2 linked regions of the Homo sapiens genome follow. The protein of the gene in region 1 interacts with the protein of each later gene in a biochemical or structural test. Each region holds a gene or a part of one and is shown on either strand. Other genes may lie near its edges.

What was found.
Region 2: the proteins of NGB (region 1) and GNAO1 form a complex in vitro, tested with the Homo sapiens proteins (one study listed by BioGRID).

The regions. Positions count from the first base shown.
Region 1 is NC_000014.9:77,264,983-77,268,206, forward strand, and holds the end of NGB (neuroglobin), read right to left. Parts: intron 1,689-3,224; coding exon 1,554-1,688; 3' UTR 501-1,553; downstream 1-500. UniProt on the Homo sapiens protein: Monomeric globin with a bis-histidyl six-coordinate heme-iron atom through which it can bind dioxygen, carbon monoxide and nitric oxide.
Region 2 is NC_000016.10:56,197,989-56,201,488, forward strand, and holds part of GNAO1 (guanine nucleotide-binding protein G(o) subunit alpha), read left to right. Parts: intron 1-3,500. UniProt on the Homo sapiens protein: Guanine nucleotide-binding proteins (G proteins) function as transducers downstream of G protein-coupled receptors (GPCRs) in numerous signaling cascades.

The sequences.
Region 1 (3,224 bases):
TGATTCTGATTAATAGGCACCTTCCTCCAAGCAGCGATTCAGGGTCAGGACTCCTTTCACCTGTGGCTCTGCCATGTTCAACACGTGGCCCTCATGGTCTCTGTGAGGTCTGTATCACACCAGCAGAAGGATGACAGAGCATGGAGGAGCATGCAGGAGTTTTGGGGGACCAGGCCTCGGAGTGGCACACACATCTGCACGGTCCAGCGGCCAGAGCCCAGTCACATGCCCCACCTAATTGCAAGGGTGGCTGCATGACATCCAGCTGTGTGCCCAGGAGGAAGAAGAGCTGGTTTGTGGTCTGCCAGCCAGTTTGGGCCACAGACCCCACAGATGTCTGCCACTGGCTTCCCAGAGCTTCCTCCCAGGCCCCTCCCTCCTGTTCCACCCACTCCAGCCTTGGCCTCCCTGACTCCATCCTCCCATCCTGTCCTGAGATCCACTGCCCTGCAGCTTCATCTGGCACAGGCCAAGACCCAAGAAAAGATCAGGCCCGAGGGTCAGAGAGGCACACAGAACCAGTTTATTTCTCATGAATTTATAGGACCACAGTCAGCACAGAGCAAATGGTACAAGTGCAGATGGCTGGGGTGAGGGCGGGGGCCTCTGCTGCTGCCTTCTCTTCTCTCCAGCTGCCTGAGTACTGGCACACAGCGGGCAGTGAATCTGAGGAGCTGTGGCCTCACAGTCGCTGCAGGCTGAGCCAGAAAGGAGGGCCAGGGGAGGTAAGACTCACTCCTGCAGGAGCGGGTTGGTGATGAAGGGCTGGGGGAACTCGGGTCTCTCTGGGATGAAGTCACCCCTCCTTCCTGGCCGGTCCCCAGCCCCTCCCCACCTGGCCAGCTAGCTGGGTTCCTGCAGCAGCGGAATAGTCAGGGAGTTCCCAGCAGAAGTGCTGAATGAGGGAAAGGGAATGCCGCCAAAGGAAACCGACTCTGTCAGGGCATCTGCACAGCCCGCGAGACTCAAATGAGACCCATTGAGACCCAGGTCCCCCTTCCCTTCCCTGGCAGTTCTGATTCTGCTCCCACTGCCTGGGATTCCACCAAGAAGGCTAAAGCTGCTCTTTCTCTTTATTTGTGAAAAGCAAGCCATCTTGGGGCAGGAAAGCAGTGAAGGGACTGGGCAGGCAGGACAGAAGGCGCTGGAAGCTCAGCCATCTCACCCCCGCCTTGGCCTGCACTCACCTGAAGAAGCAGGACAGACAGAAGAGCCCCATCCTCTCCCACCTCCATACCTTTCCAGCTCATCCCACCTCTGCCACCAAAACACTCATCGCGGGGTCAGAGGGAGTGCCAAAAAAGGTAAAAAGAAACGCAAGAAAGAGGCTACTGGGGATGAGGGGACACCCAGAAGCCCCTTCCTGGAGGAAAAGCCACTCCTTCTGCAGCTGGACTCTAGGATACTGAGACCCAGCCCTGCCCCATCACCTCTCCAGTGTGGCCAAGGGGACAAGGACCAAGATGCAGGGAAGCTTGGGGAGCCTGGGCTACAACAGATACAGGCCAACAGACAGACACAGATGGATGGGGGCTGCCGGGCGGGGTCGCCTCTTACTCGCCATCCCAGCCTCGACTCATGGCCTGCACTACGGCCCCGTAGAGTTGGCTCCAGGCAGCCCGTGTGGCTGGTGTGAAGGCAGGGCCCAGACACTTCTCCAGCATGTAGAGCAGAGACTCACCCACTGTCTGCAGAGGCAAGGGGCACCTTGTCACTTCCAAAGGCAGAAAGGCACTGCTCCATTCCACAGGTGAGAAAACTGAGGCCTAGGACTGATTAGGGCTCCTGGGCCTTTTTTCCTCTCCTGCATTGAGTCCATGCTTCCTGAGCAGGGTCCTACCCAAATCCTTGGGTATCACATTGTGTCTACCTTTCCCTCTAAATGTGAGGCTTTATATCCTCACATTTTTCACCCCTGTCTTGGTCTTGCAACCACCCCATGAGTGGGGCCAAGACATTGCCTGGGACCTCCCAGCTTAGACCAAACCAAGTCATTGCTCCCAGACTTGAGTTTCCTCATCTGCAAGGCAGCAATGATGGGGTTAAGAGCCTGGGCTCTGGAGCCAGATAGACCTGAGTACAGATTCTGACTCCACCCTTCATCAGCTGGGTGACCTTGGGTAAGTTATGTAACCTCTCTGAGCCTCAGCTGCTTCATCAGTGATACAGGGAAAGTAGAAGCTCCAACTCCTGGGCCTGTTGGGATGATTAAATGGGATAATCCAGAAAAAGCTCTTAGCACAGCATCTGTATACAGGAAACCTACAATGATAATAGGCCAGGTGCAGTAGCTCACGCCTATAATCCCAGCACTTTAGGAGGCTGAGGTGGGCAGACCACTTGAGCCCAGGAGTTTGAGACCAGCCTGGTAAACATGGGAAAACTCCATCTCTACCAAAAATACAAAAATTAGCTGGGCATGGTGGTGCATGCCTGTAGTCCCAGCTATGAGGGAGGCTGAGGTGGGAGGATCACTTGAGCCTGGGAGGTTGAGGCTGCAGTGAGCTGTGATCACATCACTGTACTCCAGCCTAGGCGACAGAGCAAGATTCTGTCCCCAGAATAAATAAGTAAGTAAATAAATAAATAAAGATAATGGCTCTCATTTGCCATTATTACTCATAATAAAATAAGGTTTATTTATCTCACAAATATTAACTGAATATCCACTGTAGCCCTGGTAGATCAGGCACTATGCTGGTGCTGGGGATGGAGAGGAGGACAAGACCAACACAGCTCCTTCCTCAAGGTGCTCACCATCTGGCAAGGTGACTGGACTGTGTGGTGTACTGTCATATCAGTCGCCCCCAGTGGGCTACACCTCAAGGATTCATGCCCTTGAGTAGGGTCCTCCCACATTGACACTGGGCTTATCCATGTGAGTGGCTTTGGCCAATGGGACATTAGCAAAAGTGATGCAAGCAGAGGCTTTATAGGCACTTTCACACTGGGGCTTGTCCTCTAAAAACTCCCCCTTGGAACTCAGCTGCTATTCTATAAAGAAGCTCAGCTAGACTAGTGAATGACAACAAATCACAGGGACAGAGCTCAAAGGCTGACAGGCCTTGGACATTCTAGCCTCAGTTGAGCTCCCAGCTAAACATAACACACAAGTAACTCCAGCTACACCATGTGGAGCAGAAGAGCTGCCCAGCTGAGCCCAGCCATGAGAAATCGGAAAGCATTGTCATAGTTCTAGGGTTGTTTGATACATAGCAATAGAA
Region 2 (3,500 bases), on another chromosome or scaffold:
GAATACATCTTGATCTGAAAGACAACAGAAAAGCTGGTGAAGGGGTGATTCCAAACTGAAAAAAACAAAACAAAACAAAAAAAACCACATTTTGGAAAGAGTTACCCTCAGAATTGACACTAATAGAGAAAACTTTTGATTCTGAAAAAAGAAAGTGTGCCTGTTTGTACATACCCACAGAGTGTGGGTTTACAAATGGCAGATGTTGAGAAGAGCACTCACCTCACTTTCTTACTGATTGCATCATCTTAAAAAGCTTGAAGATGCTCAAATGAACTCCATCCTAAGAATTTCTTCAAATCTGTGTCACATTCTTATTTTCTTCCATCCCTCTCATTCACACACAGCATTGGTAGAAAGGAAGCTGTCCAACAGATCTGTGATTAGCACTGAGGGGAAGGAGAGGAGAGAGCAGTGGCTTGTTAACTGGTTCAGATAAATAGGTAGTTTCTTGTGTTTAGAGAAGCAGTTTAGCATGCTTCTCTAAAATTGAGAGTTGGTTAAGAGCATAGACTCTGCAAACAGGCTGCCTGGCTTCAAATCTTGGCTCTACTGCTAACTAAATATGTGACCTTACACAAGGCCCATAACATTTGGTGCCTCAGTTTCCTTACCTGTAAAATGGGACTGATAATGAAAATAACTACTAATAGGATTGTGGAGAGCATGAAATGAGTTAACATATGAAATGTGCTTTGAGTAGTGTCTAGAATGTAGAAATCATTATACAAATGTTAGCTCTAGTTTTTATTCCTTTGATTAGTGGGTGTTCCCTTCCCATGTGGAGTTCTCTTGTCAAGTAAGTATGTGGGACTTAGCCACCCTGAGAAGCAGAAGGGGGGTGCTGTGGTTCATGTTCATGGCTTCTTCCCCTTGCCTGCTCTGCAGCACCAGTTATATAACAAACTGTGTTGTCATAACTGATGTGACATTTTTGATGGCGCAGCTGCTTCAGCCCAAGAGCTGGGGTGACATTTCAAAGGGTGGGAAAGAGCACTGAACCAGGAGTCCAGGTCAGTAGCTCTGCCTCTGCCCCTCCGAGGGCTCGGTTTCCTGAAAGAGTTGGACCAGGGCTACCCCAGGCTCCCTTCCTGTTGTCAACGGTGTATGAAATTGGGAATTCCCTTTGTTTTCAGGGTCTTGATGTTCTCAATATTAAAGCATGAATTATGGTTTTATCCCATGGGGGTGTAGGGTATCCATGAAAGTTCTTTTAAGACTAAGTTAATTGCAGAATAGCAACCTCAGCCACAGAGCTTTGTCAGCCAGGAAATTTGTAGTTCTGAGAGTCAATTTGAGAAAAACACCTCTAACCAAACTTTTCATGCAGACATGGTTCTTAAACCAAAGAGGAGGATCTGAAAGTATCTCATTAGTAAGAAACAGGATGTTTCTGGGAGGAGAGAGCCAGTGACATTAGAAGAGAAGTGGTTTTTCCGTGGCTTCCAGGATGCTCAGAAGTGGAGACAGCCCTAGCGTTCACCAGAAATGGCTGCATATGAAGAAACTTGCCTGGGTTAAGGTGCCTAAAACCCAGGGAGCAGAGAGATTTGCAGACTAGTAAAAGGGGAGGCTCAGGAGAACTGTATTTTAATTTTGATTCACTCTCTCATTTAACTTTGGGCAGATCATTTGGCCACCCTGGGCCTCAATTTGTTCATCTGTTAATTGGGATGTGGGTTTTCACCATAGAATTTCTCAGGGCTCTTTCGGGTTTCCAGCTCTAAGATGCAGTAAATGCAAAGAGAAACTTAGAAGCCTGAAAGGCGGTGGGGAATAGTGGGAGTATTTACCACCCACAGCTTTTATCTGCTGAGCCATCTTTAGTTCTAATTTTCTTTACAGAGAAGAGGAAAAACATTGTGCTTTTCATAGCACCAAAAAATTAAAGTAAAATAAAATCTTGCAAGGCTAATAGTTGGTGCCCTGAATTTGGCCCCTTACTCTCTTGATTTGTCAACCATCCTAGAAATAAGTAGAATGGAGAAAAGAGAAAGGGAGAATAATACATAAGACTAGGATTTCATAGCTAACAATTTACCTTGGATTCTCTGCCTGTGTCTTAGCCAACAGATAGGTTTTCTGTAGAATATTGTTACTTATGAGAATAGCTTCTCCATGCTTTAAAATTGATCCTGGGGTCACCTGACCCCAGGGTCTCAGAGCACTAATGCATATTGCACATTGTGAATTAATTAGGTGTTTATTTGTCTGTATCCCTTGCTAGCCTGGGTGTCCCTTCCCACCAGGGCTCCCTGAAGCAAGGATGTTACTTATTTTTGCTCATAGTACAGCACCATGCCCAATGCCTGGCACAAAGGAGGTCTTAATAAACGTTAGTTAAAGAAAAGGAAGAATACGAGGTATATAAGGAATGAACCTTATTATTCTCCATAAACCAAAATAATCATGTTGAAAGCTTTTGGTGGCCATGGAATGTGTTCATCATTTTCAATCTATTATATTCATTTGTTTATCAACCTGTGAGCAAATATAGTCATCAATTCCATTTTACAGATGAGGAAGTGAGGTTCAAAGAAGTAAGGTGGCTTGCTCAAGGCCACACAGCTTAGTAGGTGACAGTGTTGTATTCAGACAATGATTTGTCTAATTCTAAAACCTGTGTTCTTTTCGTTGTAACTCCACACCTTTCTTACTAGACCACCCCCAGTATGGGCAGTAGAGACCTGGCAGTCTACGACCTCACACCCAGATGTTGATGGTGCCAGCTGTGGTTGAGGTCAGTGGCTGAGAGAATAGAAAGTGCCTAATTGGTGCTGAGTTCCTTCTGGAGGTGGTAGTAATGGTCATCATATATCACATTGATTTGGATACCAGAGTATTCCCTAGCAACCATCTGGACAGGCCTTGAAATGATTTTTCATTACCGCCTCAAAAATGGGGGCCATTTTCAGATTGCAACAGAGAGAAGGCTCTGGCTTTGGTGGAGGCAGGTGTCTTGGAGAACTATGGAAAGACAGGATGGTAGGGGATCCATCCATCTGTCCATCCATAAGCATTTATGATTGCCTATTTTGTGGGTAGCATACACACAGTGTCATGGAAGTAGAGAGGAAGGCCTCAGTCCTTGTCCTGAAGGAACTCATGGTCTGGAGGGAGCTACACAAAAAAGACTCTTGCACTTCAGGTAGGAAGGGCCACAATGTCTGTATACACAGTGTGCTATGGTAGAACAGAAGGCACCTTCTCTAGGCAGGAAGTTCAGGGAAGACAGCCAAGAGACAATGGCATGTGAACTGAGCCTTTAAAACAAGTGGTAGTTCACCAGGTCGAAAAAAAGGAATGCCAGGCAGAGGGACTGGCATGTGTAAAGGCATTAAGATGTCACCACATGGAACATGCTAGGAGTGTAAAATAGTTTGATTTGACTAGAGCAAAATATGTAAGAGGAGTGTTAAGAAATGAGGAATGAAAGATTGGACAGAAACCAGATCATGAAAGGCCTTATCTATTGTGCTAAGGACTTTGGATTTTATTCT